3 linked regions of the Homo sapiens genome follow. The protein of the gene in region 3 purifies or fractionates together with the protein of the main gene of each other region. This does not show direct contact. Each region holds a gene or a part of one and is shown on either strand. Other genes may lie near its edges.

Region 1 (7,035 bases), on a different chromosome or scaffold from region 3:
ACATAAAATTTAATTTGTGATAAGGAGAATAGTTTCTGTGTTCAGAACATATTTTACTAATGTGCCACATGACCTTTACTGCATTACTCATAAAACTGTGAGTCTAAAATAGATGATGAAAGAGAATAAGTATTCATTTCAAAAATGTTATAAAAATGATACAAAAAACCCTTCCCCTTTATATAAAATCCTATCATGAAAATCATTTTACAAAAAATAGAAATAAAAACTTTTCAGCTTTATAAACTATTTTTTTTAATGAGCGGGACCTTGGACCAAAAAAGGTATTATCATATCCATCCTATCAATTAAGATGCATGATGTATCCATTGTAAGCACTAACAGTTGTTGAAGACTGTAGGAAACAAAAGAATAGTCAACCAAAAGAAAAAAAGCTCCATAAACAGGACAATGAGTCCCATATTTGATCTTGAAAATTTAATTTGGAAGAACACTAAAAAAGACACAAAATGGCAAACCCCAGCACATGCACAAGTATTTCAGTGGGAAATTATGTACCTTGGGATTGTGAAAGGAAAACAAATCTCCCCAAAATCACTAAACCAAAAGGAAAAGTCAAGTTGGGAATTGTGTTGGGCAAACCTCTCTCCCTTTCTATTCCTAAATAAGATCACTACAAAGATTTTTAAAAAGCTACATACCTCCCTCACAATTTGCCCATAAGGAAATTCCTTGTGGACAACCAAAGGACAGGCAGAACTCAAAGTCATTCCTCTGTTCCCATGAGACAAATGCGTATCTGATGGCTTCCTCCGCCCTACTGTTTCACTACAGACTAAGGCATAAGTGACTATTCCTCATTTGTCTCTTAACTAACTATGACCCAGAAGCCTCCTCCCCACTTCGAGTTGTCTGGCCTTTCCTGATGGAACCAATGAATTATACATCTTACAAACGTTGATTAATGTTTCATGTCTCCCTAAAACATGTAAAATCAAGCTGTGCCCCTACCGCCTGGGGCACGTCATCAGGACCTGAGGCTGTGCCACAGGTGCATCCTTAACCTTGGTAAAATAAACTTTCTAAATTAATTTGGTAATCTAAATTATTTTGGTTTACAGGATCAATGAAGAATTCCTACTGAAGCAAATCATTTCTTAAAATGTAACTGTAATCTCTGATCCCATTTCTGGCCATTGCTTTAGTGGTTGATTCTCTCTTCAGTTTTAAGGGATAAACACAACCAGGTCATTCCGTTCACCTTCATCAAAAGAAGGTTTGCAAGCTGACACAGATGTCATGATGCTGTCAATAATAAGAAGCTGACATCATGAGGTTACTGCTGGAATCAGGATTTTAATGTCAACAATGATAACTCTCCAAAATAAAACAACTGCCAACCACAAACCCAGGTTAAAATAATCTCATCTTGATACTATGAGCTATTTTTTCAATTGAAAGATTCTAGCAAACTTAATCTAATACCTCAACCTTAGTCAGAAAAACTTTCGTCTTAACTGTTTCACCTACATCAAACTTAGCTGAGCCTCAGGCTTCACATTTGAAAAATGGAGATGATATAGTATCTACTGCAGGGTTACTGTGAAAATGAGACAATGCATTGTAGGGGCTTATCACCGTGCTTGGCATATAACAAATGTTAGACAATATTTTTCATGTGTTTGACAGTGTGTTGTAGGTACTAAAAACAATTTTCTAATTATCATTGATTTTGCTTACATAGCTTAAACCAAAGTAACACAGGTGTAGAAAATAAGGATTTGAACTCACAGCTCAGCATCTTCTTAATATGCCTCATATCCATGTGTAAAACTTTTTCTCTATACTTTAGCTTGTGTAAATTTTCTCATGATGATTTTAAATCCACATAAATAAGACTAGTTTAACAAATGTGCAAAGTCAGATCACAGAAACATGATTCAAAACATTTCAAAGCAATATAAAATGATTAAAACCACCATTAACTAGTAGCCATAATAACTCAATGAGAACACTGGCCTAGACCAAAAAAAAAAAAAAAAAAAAGACAGGTGAGAATACTCAAAAGAAAGAGTAGAAGTTAGTGAGTGACAGGGACAGGAGGCAGGGAAATTCTAGGCAGAAAAGGGCAGGTCCCTGAGAAAACCCCACCCTCAAGCCTGAAACCATGACGCAAAGTGAGAACTTATATCCCCATTTTCCCGTGCGAATGTTGCCTTTTCCGAAACCACTTACGGCCCACCCCACACCCCATCCTGTGTACATAAAAACCCCAGGCTCAGCCAGCAGAGAGAAGAGAAGCAGTTGGACATTAGAGACTACAGCTGGACATCAGAGAGAAGTGGCTCGACTTCAGAGGGACACCTTGACAGCGTAACTTCGAAGAAGAATCTGGCCAGAGACAGCTGGCATTCAGGGGAAGACTACCTTCCTGCCCTTTGCAGCTCCCCTTCCCACTAAGAGCCATCTCCATCAGCAATAAGATCCCCTACATTTACCATCCTTCAATTCATTCATGTGACCTCATTTCTCCTGGATGCCGGACAAGAGCTCGGGAACGATGAGTGTGGACACAAAAAGGCTGTCACACTTGCCCTTTGCCCTCACTGGTAGAAGGCAGCCGATTAACACAAAAAGGCAGAGGGCCCACTGAGCTGTTAACCCTTAAGCCGTCTGCGGACAGCAGAGCTAAAAGAGCACTGTAACATTCCCTCTGGAGCTTCAGGGGTTGCAGGCACCACCCCCGGAGATGCTACCACAGGGCCAGCACAGAGTTGACTCCTGCCAGTGCCCAAAAGCACTCGCCCCGGCTCCTGCACCCACTCAACTGCACATCCCCTCTTGTGAGGGGTGAAACACAGCAGGTCCGAGTGAGTGGAGTTCATTCCTCCTGGCACAAGAGCGGCAGGCTGACTCCAGCACTCATGTATTCCAGTTCCTGCCTTGTTCACTCACGTGCTCCCTCCTATGAGGAGTTGAAAGCGGTGGGCTGAGTAAACAGGGTGCTCCCTTCACAAGTCCCATGAAGGGGTCAGGAAAATATCCTGCTTCACCAGTACTTTTTAAAATGTGATAAAAACCAAATCAGTCAAGGAATACATTACCAACTTCAGCTCCTGATAAAATCCAGTATGAGATGAAACACTTATTTAAGCACCATACTGGCCAAGCTGCCTCTGGTCTCTTCTCCTGTCTGTTTGCAAACTGTTCTTTTCAAAAACACCCTCAATATGATAACATGCTAGCTCTCATAATCATGCTCTAAAAAAGCAGTATCTGTGATAAATTATCAACTCTTTTTACACCAAACCTTAAATGAAATTATTAGAAAAGCAAAAACAAAACATCAACCTTTCAATGTATCCCTATTTTGCTGGCCACAACTAAACGCCCCCAAAATGTTTCCAATGAGCACCAACAGTGATTTTTAGCCTATTTTACTTTTAAATATATTTATATACAGAACAGGCACAGACTAACTTTTTAGTTAAAGAATGCACTGAGACTGAATAGCAGATGATTTAGCATGAGTTAACAGGTCAATTATATGGAATTATAATTGTTTCTGTGCATTGGGATTTTATGTTAAACATGAGAATGTAATGGTGGGCTGCCATATTTGAATTTAATTACTGTAGCCTGTTATCCAAAACATCATGAAAACACTGGAGAAAATGAGAAAAATGACATGAGGCATGGGAGATGAAAATGATGCTGCAGAGGAAATTATGGCAACAGATGTGGCTCTCTCTGAGGTATTGGCTCAAATTCATGATTTACAGAGAAGGGTAAGCATCTCCCAGAGAGTCTTCTCCAGAGTTAGATAACTCTTTACTTTTCTAGGTATTGGAAGCAAACAAAAACATACTTTTCCATCAATAAATGCCTGAAGAAGTGCAAAGCATTTTTCAGAACAGCAAAATCTGCAGGCTATCTTTCACTCCTATAGCATCTCTTACGCTGACAACGGAGTGTTTCATACTATACCTCAAATAAGACCGATACTAAATCTGTTCCAAAAACTATGAGGAAAACAAATGATAAATAATGCAAGCTGGTGAACAAAAGAGAAGACAACAAAGAAAGGACTTTTGAAATACCATTTCACTCCTACTCACTATGTCATTCAGCTGATCAATATACTCTATGCTTTAAATTTTTTGAACCTGCCCTCCCCAAAAACATATGTGTGTATGTGTGTTTATGTATATATATATATATGTTATATATATGGTGTGTGTGTATATATATATATATATATATATATATATATACATATATATATAAAAAACAACATTCATCCTTACTACATGCATTCTGATATATTCTACCTCATTTTTATAATGCTGGAATTCACTCCATGATCCACTAATAGGTGGCATCTTACAATTTTTAAAAATCCACTGTAGACAATAGATGTGAAGATTTTGGAAGTACACAGGGAGGACTATGGACATCCTGTGATGTGAGAACCACATTCAGGCATCCTGGGAGAAGATTAAGTTAGAAATATAGGAAATCACTTGTGTTAAGGCTGGCACAAACAGATATTTGGTAAATATCAGTTTTCACAACTCCTCCTGCAATATTACTATCCCCCAAGGCTTACAGAAGTGATGCTATTCCAACATCATCATAAGTCAATGAGCTGCCAGTCAAGGTTAACTACCTTAATGTTTAAATTCACCAACATCAAGGAATGGGACTGGAACATCCCAACATCAAGGAAAGGCTACTTAAGTGACCTTTTCTGAAAAAAGCAGCCTATCATTTTTAAGAAAATGCCTTTTCTAATCAGTCACTGTATTAGGCTGTTCCTGTGTTGCCATAAAGGAATGCCTGAAACTGGGTAATTTATAAAGAAAAGAGGTTTAATTGGCTCAGGGTTCTGCAGGCTGTACAAGCATGGTACAGGCATCTGCTCGGCTTCTAGGGAGGCCTGAGGGAGCTTTTAGTCATAGCAGAAGGCAAAGGGGAAGCAGGCATCTCCCTTGGTGAGAGGCAAGGCAAGCAAGTGTGGGGAGATGCCACACACTTTTAAACAACCAGTCGACCAGGCACAGTGGCTCCCATCTGTAATCCCAGCAATTTGGGCCACCAAGGCAGGTAGATTGCTTGAGTTCAGAAGTGCAAAACCAGCCTGGGCAACATAGGCAGACCCCATCTCTACAAAAATAAAAAAAAAAAAATTAGCCAGGCATGGTGATGCATGTCTGTAATCTCAGCTACTCAGGAGTCTGAGGTGGGAGGATTGCTTGGGCCCAGGAGGTTAAGGCTGCAGTGGGCCATGATTGTGCCACTGCACTCCAACTAGGGTGACAGAGCAAGACCCTGTCTCAAAAAAAAAATTAAAAAATAAACCACCAGATCCTGCAAGAACGAATTCACTATTACAAGAAGAGTACCAAGCCATGAGGGATCCACTCCCATGACCCAAACACATCCCATCAGGCCCCACCTCCGACAACGAGGATAACATTTCAACATGAGATTTGGGCAGGACAAATATCTAAACCCTATCAGCCATTTTTATAGGAAAATTTCTGAAGTATATGAAACACTGACTTTCCTTCTTAAAAAGACTACACAGAACAGAATTTAGCCTTTTCTCAAGGACATGGTGTCATAAATAGATATATACAATGGTAATTTTAGGGCTGGTAGATCCCTACCTTGGAGATCATCTATTGAAATTTCTCACTTTACAGATGAACTAAATGATGTCACAAGAAATTCTGTAATTTTCCCAAAATCACACAATAGGATGGTCATGTGATTATCATACACCATGCTGCCACATCTACTACTGTATGGTGCTAAACACTATCTAGCAAGATAATCAGGATTTAGGGGCAGTACTCCTTATAATTTCCATGTTTATCTTTGCTATCCCTTCTCTTTCCCCATAATCTTTAGCAATAAAACTTTTTTTTTTTTTTGAGATAGGGTCTTGCTCTGTTGCCCAGGCTGAAGTGCAGTGACACAACTATAGCTCACTGCAGCCTCAAACTCCCAGTTTCAGGCAATCCTCCCACCTCAGCCTTCCAAGTAGCTGGGACTACAGGCACGTGTCACCATACCCAATTAATTTTTGTATTTTTTTTGTAGAAATACAGTTTTGCTGTGTCACCCATTTCAGCTACTTGGGAGGCTGAGGTTTCAAACTCCTGAGCTCAAGCAATCCACCTGCCTCGGCTTCCCCAAGTGCTGGGATTACAGGCCTGAGCCACTGCACCTGGCCAATGAAACTTTTTTTTTTTTTTGAGACAGTCTCACTCTGTTTCTCTGACTAGAGTGCAGTGGTGCCATCTAAGCTCACTGCAACCTCCGCCTTCCAGGATCAAGGGATGCCTGTGCCTTAGCCTATAGAGTAATGGGGATTACAGGCCCGTGCCACCATGCTTGGCTAACAATAAAACTCTTAAATCAAAAGAATATATGTGTTTATCCTATGCAGTAGAAAAATTAAGCTAACCTACTCTGCAGCCCATCTTAGGGGAAGAACTCCAAAAGATGTGAGCAGTGTGCTTTTAAAAAGAAAAAATGCAGGCTGAATGTCTACATGGTCTTCAAAAAGAAAGAAGGATGCAATGAAAAGCCTACATTGTCTTAAGAACAGCTTTGGGGATATGACTGTTAGGAAGGCCAGAACGTTCCTGAGAATAGGCAATACAGTAAACTTCACAAGGGAAGGGACTAGGTTCTCAGTAAATGTGGGTTGAATGACCTGAAAAATGAGTATTTGTCACTACACTAAATGTTATCAGGCCTTTGTGATGTTTGATGTAAGTTTGCATTTTAGGTGTTTTTCTCTTCCCTTTCCTATACAAACTGTCATTTGTATGTCTAATAGCAACCCCACCAAACATAGTCTTTGCAGAAGTTGATAACATTCCTTGTATCTTCTAAGGGGGTGGTTCTAATATGCTGAGCTTGCTAGAATTATTTTTAAAATGAGGATGAATATGTTCTAAGTGATGATCTCAGGGATTCCCCTATGTATGAAGCATGTCAATATTATCATATAGATCTTATAACTTCCATCTTGACTGCTCTTCTGTTGAGTTCTTGGCT
Region 2 (4,333 bases), on a different chromosome or scaffold from region 3:
CAAAGCTGCCCAGTGGGAAGCTGCAGGTCCACCTGCGTGGGCTGCACAACCTCTGTGCCTATTGTACCCACATTCTCAGTCTCTACTTCCCCTGGGATGGAGGTAAGGGGCAGATGGGAGGGGCAGCCCTGGGGAGAGTGGGCAGGGATCCAAGAACTAGTTCTCCTAACACACCTTCCTTCCTTGACCCTCAGCTGAGGTACCACCGCAACGCCAGACACCAGCAGGCCCAGAGACTGAGGAGGAGCCATACCGGCGCCGGAACCAGATCCTATCTGTGCTGGCAGGACTGGCAGCCATGGTGGGCTACGCCTTGCTCAGCGGCATTGTCTCCATCCAGCGGGCAACGCCTGCTCGGGCCCCAGGCACCCGGACCCTGGGCATGGCTGAGGAGGATGAAGAGGAATGATTTGTCCTCACGCTCCCAAGACTGGTTTTTCTACTCTCATGCATTCCAGAGGCCCCCGTGCCTCCTCGTTGTTGGTACAGCCGGACACGGGGTGCTGCCACCCAGAATAAAGCCACTCACACTGACTGGGCTCAAACATTTTCTCCTTTAAGAGCTGCCATTTTTCCTGGCTGGTGCCATAGGAATCATCTGGGTGCCTGGGCACACCCGCTGCTGCTTTAAGGCTTCCGCCCTGATGCTGACACTGCTGCTCCACGGGCCCAGTTCTGCATCTCCAGGAAAGACAAACAGTCTCCAGTTTTGGGCCCAGCTTTCCTAGTCTCTTCTTTTCCTTACCCTCAGCCCTGATCTTGTGTTTGTACGGACAGTGAGCTCACCCTAGGCCTGGACCCAGGCCCAGTTTCCAAAGCAAGCAGCACACAGCGCATGTTCACATAAGCATGGGGGCTGGGGGGACACTGGGGCTTACTGATCTTTTTCTAGGGGCCTCCAGCCCCTGGCACCACCTAGAGGGGAAAGTGAGTCACCCAAACCATTGCCCCTGGGCTTACGTCGCTGTAAGCTCACACTGGCCCTGCTGTGCCCTCTTTAGTCACAGACAGCGTGTGAGCTGACTCTGTCCCTTTAATGCCCAGGCTGAGCCCAGTGCCTCCTTGAGTATCTGCTCCATCACTGGCGACGCCACAGGTAGGTGTGAATGGAGTAGCCAGGTGAGATTGTCTCCAGGAAGCCCACAGCAGGATCCTTGATGGTAAGAGGCACATCCTTAGAGGAGCTAGGGAGCAGGGAGGAGAAGCTGAGAGTGTGATCCTGCCAAGGCCCCCAACGCTGTCTTCAGCCCACTTCCCAGACCTCACCATTGCCCTCACCGGTTTAGCACGACCACAACAGCAGAGCCATCGGGATGCATCAGTGCCACTGCGTCCAGGTCGTTCTTCTGACTGGCAACCAGCCCCACTCTCTGGGAGCCCTCAGGAATGAACTTGCTGAATGTGGGAACAGATGGTCAGAGTCCCTCGGGGTACCTCCCATGAAACCCTCATCTAAGAAGTCACCCACCCACGGACCCACCCCATAACTCCTGCAGAGGCTCTGCCCTGGCTCTCTAGGCCTGGAGCCATGCTGCTGGGCACTGACCCTGCTTTTCTGCATCGCAGTCCAGCCTCAGGCATTGGGGTTTTCTGTTGCTACCTAGTCACTTCCTGCCTCCATGGTGCAAAAGGGGATGGGTGTGCCTCTTCCGAGGTTCCACCCTGAACACCTTCCTGCTCCCTCGTGGTGTAGAGTGATGTAAGCCATCCGATGTAGGAGATGATAGGCCTGGTATGGAATGGGGGTGCCCGCCCTCCACTCACCTGAAGTGGCCAAGGTGGTAGAACATGGGCTGTTTGTAAAACGTGTCCTTGGTGATGTCTACAATGATGGGACTGTCGACAAAGTTACGCACCCAATTGGGTCCTCCTTCGGGGTTCAGGGCAAGGTTCCAGTCGGTCCAGCCGACCACATGGTACAGGAGGTTCTAGGGTAAGGACAAAGGCAAAGAGACAAAGGCGCAACACTGGGGGTCCCCAGAGAGTGTAGGTAAGGGTCACATGTGGGAGAGGCAGCTGTGGGTAGGTCAGCCCTGTGAGGGGCACATTCCTTAGTAGCTAAGGAGTTGGGGGTGTGAAGATCCAGGCATCTCAAGGGGAGCTGAGAAGTCTGAGGCAGCTGCAAGTGCCTCAGTAGTTGCAAAAGGGGCAATGAGGTGTGCAGACCTGTGAAGGAAAGGGAAGATAGGGAATCATGGTTCCCCAGAGTTGCTCAAAAGGGCAGGCTAGCTGGGGAAAGCTGGACAGGAAGGGCTTCTGTCAGTCTTTGGTGAAACTAGTAAGAGGTCTGAGGTCTGCTTTGCAGGAAGGGAGACTGGGGTGGCTTACCGTGATGATGCTGTGGCTGTACTGCATCCCTCGATCCCAGGAGCCTAGCCGCACACTCTGCTCCCAGAACTTGGAGCCCACACAGGCCTCTGAGGCAAAGAGCATGGTGTTGGGGAACAGGCGGTGTGTCTCCCCTAGGGTGGCTTTGGCTGGAGCCAGAAAGTCCAGGTACCAATGTACAGCAATGCCATGAACATATTTAGCTGCTTCTGGGTCTGTCAGTACCTGCAAAGGAAGAGCAACTGATCCTGGACCTTGCACACAGGCTTCTGGAACTTCTAGTTCCTGTTGTAGGAATCCTGGAGTTGGGTGACGGGAAGAATGCAACTAGAGAGGTTTGGGGAGATTTTTTTTTGTTTTTGAGACAGGATGTCACTCTGTCACTCGGGCTGGAGTACAGTGGCGCAATCACGACTCACTGCAGCCTTGACTTCCTAGGGTCAACTGATCCTCCCACATTAGCCTCCTGAGTAGCTGGGACTACACGGGTGCCACACCCAGCTAATTTGTGTGTGTATGTGTGTGTATGTATGTGTGTGTGTGTATATATATATACATATAAACACATATATATGTATATACACATACATACATGAACCACCACCCCCAGCCTAGATAGTTTTGTTTTGTTTTGTTTCGAGATGGAGTCTCGCTCAGCCTCCCAGGCTGGAGTGCAGTGGCGCGATCTCGGCTCACCGCAACCACCATCTCCCGGGTTCAACTGATTCTCCCTTCTCAGCCTCCTGAGTAGCTGGGATTACAGACACCCACCATCATGCCCAGATAATTTTTTTTTTTTGTATTTTAGTAGACACAGGGTTTCAACACGTTGGCCAGGGTGGTCTTAAACTCCTGACCTCAGGTGATCACCCGCCTCGGCTTCCCAAAGTGCTGGGTTTGCATGAGTGAGCCACCTCGCCCAGCCCCTAGAAAGGTTTCAAGCGACAACTGTGGGATCCATGGCACCCTGGAGGTCCAGGGGAATGGTGCTCTAGGAATCCATAGTTGGGTAGAGAAATCGCTCTAAGTTTGGGAGCCAGTCATTTGGATGCTGGATTTGAAGGTCACTGGAGCACCATGGAGGTCCAGGCCTTACCACCTTTGCCCAGTGGGGCAGCAGCAAGCGTTGGTCATCCAGCATGAGTAGGCGGACATTGTGGTGAGTACTGTTGGCGAGGGTAGGACCTAGGTCACGGGCAATGAAGTCTCGCTGATGTTCAGGGGTGAAGCCCAGGCACTGGAAGGGGTATCCACTCAACAGCCCAGCAGAAGGCTCATTTTCAGCTGTCACTGCCCAGAACTGTAACTTGTGCTCAGCATAGGCATCCAGGAACCTGGCAAGAGAAAGGTCATGAATGATCCGGCCAAGAAAGTGGACCAGACCAGCTGGGTGTGGTGGCTCACACCTGTAATCCCAGCACTTTGGGAAGCCGAGGCAGGTGGATCACTTGAGTTCAGGAGTTCGAGAACAGCCTGGCGAAACCCCGTCTCTACTAAAAATAGAAAAATCAGCTGGGCCTGGTGGCAGGCGCCTATAATCCCAGCTACTTGGAAGGCTGAGGCAGGAGAATTGCTTGAACTCAGGAGGCAGAGGTTACAGTGAGTGAAGATGGCGCCACAGCACTCCAGCCTGGGTGACAGAGAGAGAGACTCCTTCTCAAAAAAAAAAAAAAGAAGAAAAATAAAAAGAAAGTGGGCCAGACCGAGAGAACAGGAAGCCTGATGGAGTGGGCAAGATTGACAGGCCCAAGGCTGAAAGGCCCAGAAGGTAGAAAGGTGAGCTGAGGACAGGCAGATCTGGAAGTGGAACTAGGTTGAGGGTTGGGACACAGATCAGCATGGCTAAATGGGAGGCCAGTCCTGATCCCACATCCTTGCTGATCCCTTACTTCACAAAGTATCTGGCCCAGGTCTGGTGGTAGATGTCTCCGGGCTGTCCCTTGAGTGACCCCTTCCCATTCACCGCTCCATTGGTCTTGAGCCAAGTGGGTGATGTCCAGGGGCT
Region 3 (6,855 bases):
GTGGAGCAGTAAGGGTGGAAGCAGGGAAGCCCTTCAGAAGGCTTTTGCAGTAATCCAGGTGACAGAGATGATAGAACTTGGTGGAAGCAGCAGAAGTGGTGAGAAATGGTTATCATCCTAGATGTATTCTTTTTTTTTTTTTTTTTTTTTTTTTGAGACGGACTCACACTCTGTCGCCCAGGCTGGAGTGCAATGGCACGATCTTAGCTCACTGCAACCTCCGCCTCCTGGGTTCAAGCGATTCTCCTGCCTCAGCCTCCTGAGTAGCTGTGATTACAGGCACCCACCACCACGCCCCGCTAATTTTTGTATTTTTAGTAGATACAGGGCTTCACCATGTTGGCCAGCCTGGTCTTGAACTCCTGACCTCACGTGATCCACCTGTCTCGGCCTCCCAAAGTGCTGCGATTACAGGCGTGAGCCACCGCACCCGGCCTGCTGAGGAATTTAATGTGGGGTATAAGAGAAAGAATCAAGAGTGATTTCAGGGTGTTTGGTGTGAGCATCTGGAAGAGTGAAGTTGCCATTCACTAAGATGGAGAAGACTAGGGGAAAAGCAGCTTTGGGAGAGAAAACTCAAAAATCTGGCTCCTAGAGATTGTTGCTCACTTTAAAACCCTTACATCTATTTTAGAACCAAAACAATAGAAATTGAGAAGCTGACTTTAAATTTCATGTGGAAGGCCAGGCATGGTGGCTCATGCCTATGATCACAGCACTTTGGGAGGCTGAGGCAGACAGATCACCTGAGATCGGGAGTCCGAGACCAGCCTGACCAACATGGAGAAACCCTGTCTCTACTAAAAATATAAAATTAGCCAGGCATGGTGGCACATGCCCGTAATCCCAGCTACTCAGGAGGATGAGGCAGGAGAATCACTTGAACCAGGGAGGCGGAGGTTGCAGTGAGCTGAGATCGTGCCATTGCACTCCAGCCTGGTAAATAAGAGCAAAACTCCATCTCGAAAAAAAAAAAAAATTCATATGGAAATTCAAGGGACTGGATAGTCAAAACAATCTTGAAAAAGAACAAGGTTGGAGGACTCACATATCCTGATTTCAAAACACTATGTAGCTACAATAATCAAGGTAGTATGATACTAGCCTGAGGACAGACATACAGATCAATGGAATAGAACTGACAGTCCAGAAATAAACCTTTACATTCATGGTCAATTTATCTCAACAGAGGTGCCAAAACTATTCAAAGAGGAACAGTCTTTTAAACAAATGGTGCTGAAAGAACTGGATATCCACATGCAAAAAGTTGAAGTCAGACCCCCTGCCTCACACCATATTTAAAAATTAACTTAAAATGGGTCAAAGAATGAAATGTAAGAGCTAAAAACTATAAAACTTTTAGAAGAAAACATAAGTATAAATCTTCATGATCTTGAATTTGACAATGTTTTCTTAACTTTGACATCAAAAGCACAAACAACAAAAGGAAAAATAGGCTCGGTGCAGTGGCTCAAGCCTATAATCCCAGCACTTTGGGAGGCTGACGCAGGTTGATCACTTGAGGTCAGGAGTTCAAGACCAGCCTGGCCAACATAGCAAAACCCCGCCTCTACTAAAAATACAAAAATTAGCCAAGCATGGTAGCACACACCTGTAATTCCAGCTACTCTGGAGTCTGAAGCAAAAGAATCACTTCAACCCAGGAAGCGGAGGTTGCTGTGAGCCAAGATCATGCCACCGCATTCCTACCTGGGCGACAGAGTGAGACTCTGTCTCAAAAGAAAAAAAAGGAAAAATAGATTAAATATACTTCAACGAAATTAAAAATCAAGGCACGTCACAGAAATTAAGGAAGGAAGAAAAAAGGGAGGGAGGGAGGAAGAGAGAATGGTAGAAAGGAAGGAAGAAAAAAGTAGGAATGAAAACATAAAACAACATAAACCAACATAAAATACAGAAAATAATGATCCTCAGTCAAGTTCCTTCAGCATTATATTAACCTTTCTTCACTTCTAACCATCTGCAGAAACTGTTTTCCAGATTGTATTTTCCCTCTAAAGCAAGTTTTTAAGGCCGAAAAAAAAAAAAGAACAAGAACAGTGAGTGGAGAATCAACAAATTTAATTAGCAATGATTACAGAAAACTTAAATAGCACACACAACTCTATAATCCCTCTACCCCCAATTCCAACATCTGACTGATCAACCAACCATAAAATGTGAGAATCCATCCAGAAGGAAAGAACAGCTGTTAAGCTGTAGGGGTAAGGACCCTGTGGCAGAAGACCCTGAGGCCATGTGGGCCCAGGTGGCCAGCAGGAGCGGAAAGGCTGGGAAGGCTCCTCAGTCCAGGGCTCACAAGACTCCCTTCGCTTCAGGCCTGACTTTGCTGAACTGGTGATCTATTGGGACAGAGACAGGCTTTGGCAATAGTTACCAAAGCCTGTCATCATATCTGCACCACCACCAGTCCCGACCGGAGGGCCTGGCTGCCAGGTAGTTTTCAGTCTAACTGACAGGAGAAGAGAGAGCCCCTCCCTCGCAGCTAGTCTGCAGTCCAGACCCTCACCAACCGGAGGGCAACCAGGTTAAACAGTTAAACTGAAAGCAAAAGAGGGAGGAATGAACCGGGGGGCGTGCGGGAGGTCGGGGACTTTCCTCCTTTCCCTCCTGGAAAGTTTCCTACCCCTGATGGGCATCCTCCCACCTGGATGCAACCCGGAGGCGATCTGAGACCCTGGCCGGACCTGGGACCGCACCTGGCCAGCACCAGGCAGTTGTCATCACTGGGGTCTGCGCTGAGGGCCTGGGAGAGAAGCCACTCTTCAGGCGGGCTCGGGCGCCTGGAGGCGGGGAGGAAGGGCGGCGCACTCGGACCCCAGCCCTAGGACGGCCCCAGGGGGACGCCTCGCTCGGCCCTCCCGGAGGGACCGGACCCGCCGCGCGCCTCCCGCTCCTCAGGCCCCCTCACCTGGCTCGCCCCGCCGTCCTGTCCCCGCCTGGCTCGGGTCCTCGCGCGCCGCGTCCACCCGCCGCCGGCCTTTTTTGGGTCGTTGGCGGGTATTTTCCGCCTGGCCCCACATCACTTCCCGTAAAGGAGAGCGAGGTGGGGCGGGACCTTCTCTCCTCCACCTCCCGCCTTCTCCTGTCACCTCGGGAGCGGCCCCCGCCCGGCTGGCGGGGGGCGGGGTGCTGTCGCGCTCTCCCCGGCGGCCGCGCCTCCGAGGGGTCCTCTGTGAGCCCCGAAAAGGCCCCGCTCGCCTCCTTTGTCCCAACACTAGTTTCCGCTGCCCCATTCTGGAAGGCGCTACAAAATATAGGAGTGTTTTCGTTTTGGGACACAGGAGGGACATTTACAAACTGCACCAAGGACCGGTGCGCGGCGAGGTGTCGTTTGGGGACTCTCCCCTATTCACCTCCCCAAAAAGCCATGTTCTAAGGGTGTTTTCCACGGCATCAGTTCGCGGTCGCCACCGTAGCAGCCGGAGGTGCCGGGCGTACTCACGCCGGCCCCGCCCGAGGTTCCCGAGTCCGCGCGGCTCCTGAGGCGGCGTCCCAGGCCCGGCCCTGCCCCCGGCTTCCCGCCCCTGCGGCTCCTGGCTTAGGTCGGCCTGGACACGGCGTTTCCGGGGCAAGGGAATGCCCAGGATTCCTGGAAATAACATGGGAGAAAAATAAGTAAAAAATTTCGCAGGAAAAAAATCAATGTAATTCCGGGAGGAAATGGCAAACGGAGTCTCTGCTCACACTGTGTAATTCAAGAATATAAAACCACTGTAAATTTCTAAGAGTGTTAGAGCAATGAGTTTAAAAAGAAGAAAACTACAGTATGTTAAGGAACCGCCTCTGTCGGAAGAAACCTGCGCGCCTTTGCTGCCACCCAGCGGCTCTCTTCTCCCAGCGCCAACGGTGTCGCTCCGGCCTGCGGGGTAGTGAACCTGGGACTGCGTAGGGGGTCAGACCTCGTGGTTCCCACTCAGAGGCAGCCAAGTTCATCCCTCTCAGTGGCCAGGAGGTGTGAACAGCAGCCCTTGGGCCTGTCCCTATGGAGTCTAAGGCAAAGGCCCTTTGAACCAAATGTTTCCACTTCTAAGCAGAGTAAAATGTTGAGAAGCCTTAGTTCAGCTTCCCTTCTGCCTTCTAAGCCGTCTCGCTGACTTGTGTCTACCTCCACCGCAAATTCCAGCTGTCGCAGGCCCACCCGGTCAACTCCATCACCTTTCCAGTCTGTAGCTACTCACAGTTGGCATTACAGCAGTTAGCTTCTCAGGTGGGTCCAATTTACAAAATCACATATAGGATGAACCATATGAAATTACAAACAGTTGGCAATTTCATACATTTGATATAACATTTCCAGGCAAACATAACACAGTAAACTCGGGTTTAGAGATAACAAATGTCCTAACAGGTTGATAACTTCAAGAGCTCTTCCCGTGTGAGAGAAGGGCCATCAGACTGTTGGTGAGGTTAAGAGAGAAAAAGGCCGGGTTAGGTGGCTCACGCCTGTAATCCCAGCACTTTGGGAGCCCGAGGCCGGCAGATCACGAAGTCAGGAGATCGAGACCATCCTGGCTAACACGGTGAAACCCCGTCTCTACTAAAAATACAAAAAATTAGCAGGGCGTCGTGGCACGCGCCTGTAGTCTCAGCTACTTAGGAGGCTGAGGGCAGGAGAATCGCTTGAACCCGAGAGGTGGAGGTTGCAATGAGCCGAGATGGCGCCACTGCACTCCAGCCTGGGCGACCGAGCGAGACTCTGTTTCAAAAAAAAAAAAAAAAAAAAAAAAAAAAAAAAAGGGAAAAGGTAGCCTCATGTTCATGTCCAGAGGAATAGTCCTGGGAATCACTGATCAGCTAAAATCTGGGAAACCAATAATGTAGTAATTGCTAATGGCTGATATGGCACAGGGAAAGCCTGCCTTCAGCTTTCCCCACTCCTGTGGCCAGGCAAGGCTCTCACCAGGAGTATACCAGACAGGAGATCAGAAAACCTAGGATGGTGCTATGGCCCATTCATCACCCATTCATTCACTCATTCATCAAGTCAGGCACCCTATTAGTAAACAAGGTAAACTGGTCCCTGACGTCAGGACTTACTTGAGAGACCATCGAATAAGTAGGCAACTCCAGTAGTGAGATAAGAGCCTCAATAAAGGAAGTTAAAGAGTGTTATTGGAGCACAGATAAATGACACCAAATCAAGAGAAAGTTAAGGATAAACTTAGAATGAATGAGGGCAAGGGGCAAGGGAGAAGAGAATTCCAGGAAAATGGAGCAGAGGGAAGGCCTGGAAGCAAAAGATAGCATTCAACACTGGAGCAACAGGAAGAGGTTCAGAAAAGCTGAAAGACTGAAAGCAATCAGAAAAGAAAATGGAGAAATAACAGAGGCTGTGCGGTGAATAACCCTGCAATGATGATCATGATCATAACTAACATTTCTTGATCATTTACTATGAGTCAGCCAATATGCTAATAGTTTTGACTACATCACCTCATACGTGTCTTACAACTACTTTATGAAGTAGGTACTATTCTTACCTCTGTATTACAGATGAGGAAACTGAGTCCTAAAGCGATTAAGCAGTCTGACCAAGATCATGCAGCTAATAAGTGGCACAGCCAGGCCTAAAACTCAGAACTCAAGTTTTTAATGGTTCTAAGAATGGGTCTGAGAGGTCAATTAGCACGCTGTAATCCAAGTGAGGGATAATAGCGATCTGATTACGGCAGTGGCCATAAGGATGGAGATGAATGGACATATTTGACATATTTAGGAGAGTGAATCAAGAGGACTGGGATGTAGGGGTGTGAAAGAGAGGCAGTAGTCCATGGGGATGCCCAGTTTCTGGTTTGGGCAACAAGAAACCATTAAGCAACAGGAAGAAAACCTAGTTGCAACCAGGAGGAAGGGTGAAATAGGCCATAGTGATGAGTTTAGGACATTTCCATTTTGACACACTAGCACCAACAGAATATCCAAGTGAAGCTGTTTAGTATGTAGTCAAACAGGCCTATCTGAAGCACAGAAAACATGTGCTGTAGCTATTACCCAAAAGGTACTGGAAGGCATTAGAATCAATGAGCTAATCTAGAAAGTGAGCTGAGAGGGCAATAGGCTTGTTACAGAACCCAGATGAACACCCAGCATTTAAGGCATGAGCAATGGAAGTTCAAAAAGGAATCCAAAAAAAGAGTATCCAGAGAGGTAGGAAGAAAACAAGGAGAGTGTTATTACAGAAACTAAGTACACTGAACACATCTCGTGTGTCAGTTCAAAGTCATCTCTACGCCACTTCTTACTGCAGCCACAGAATCGATCACAGTATACCTCTTGCTTCCCACACTGGGGCTTTTCTGACACTGCTACTTGCAACATGGAGAGTTCTGCCTCCAGTTTTCCTAATAGAATTAAAGTGGATGGAATCAGTAAGAATTCATGGATTTTAATAAATAAATATAGATATATGTATGTGTATATGTATGTATTATCTAGCTCTGTCTGCTAAGAGGTCCTAGAAGCAATTATATCAAAGTAGCTACGAGTACACTTAGCACCTGGATGTTGATTTCTTAATATCCCTTTCCAACAAAAGGAACCAATTACATAATATTATATATGGAAAATCCTAAATAAAAAATCTATTAGTGCTAATAAATGAAATAAGCAAAGATGCAAGATACTAGATCAACACATAAAAATCAGTTGCATTTCAATGTATTAGAAATGAACAATTGAAAAGGAAACTTTAAAAGTTCCATTTACAATAATATCAAAAAGAATAAAATACCTAGGCATAAATTTAACCAAGAAGGTGCAGGATTTATACATTGAAAACCACAAACCACTACTGAAAAAAAAAGAAAATCTAAATAAATGAAAAGACATGGC

The links.
Region 1: the proteins of RAB27A (region 3) and CHM purify together in Homo sapiens (co-immunoprecipitation; 2 studies listed by BioGRID and IntAct, with this or other methods). This does not show direct contact.
Region 2: the proteins of RAB27A (region 3) and GBA1 purify together in Homo sapiens (co-immunoprecipitation; 2 studies listed by BioGRID and IntAct, with this or other methods). This does not show direct contact.

The regions. Positions count from the first base shown.
Region 1 is NC_000023.11:86,037,524-86,044,558, forward strand, and holds part of CHM (rab proteins geranylgeranyltransferase component A 1), read right to left. Parts: intron 1-7,035. UniProt on the Homo sapiens protein: Substrate-binding subunit of the Rab geranylgeranyltransferase (GGTase) complex.
Region 2 is NC_000001.11:155,233,917-155,238,249, forward strand, and holds the end of GBA1 (lysosomal acid glucosylceramidase isoform 1 precursor), read right to left. Parts: coding exon 4,218-4,333; intron 3,663-4,217; coding exon 3,425-3,662; intron 2,554-3,424; coding exon 2,329-2,553; intron 1,929-2,328; coding exon 1,765-1,928; intron 1,396-1,764; coding exon 1,279-1,395; intron 1,185-1,278; coding exon 1,079-1,184; 3' UTR 536-1,078; downstream 1-535. UniProt on the Homo sapiens protein: Glucosylceramidase that catalyzes, within the lysosomal compartment, the hydrolysis of glucosylceramides/GlcCers (such as beta-D-glucosyl-(1<->1')-N-acylsphing-4-enine) into free ceramides (such as N-acylsphing-4-enine) and glucose.
Region 3 is NC_000015.10:55,286,784-55,293,638, forward strand, and holds the start of RAB27A (ras-related protein Rab-27A), read right to left. Parts: upstream 3,031-6,855; 5' UTR 2,933-3,030; exon of another isoform or gene 2,669-2,932; intron 126-2,668; exon of another isoform or gene 1-125. UniProt on the Homo sapiens protein: Small GTPase which cycles between active GTP-bound and inactive GDP-bound states. In its active state, binds to a variety of effector proteins to regulate homeostasis of late endocytic pathway, including endosomal positioning, maturation and secretion.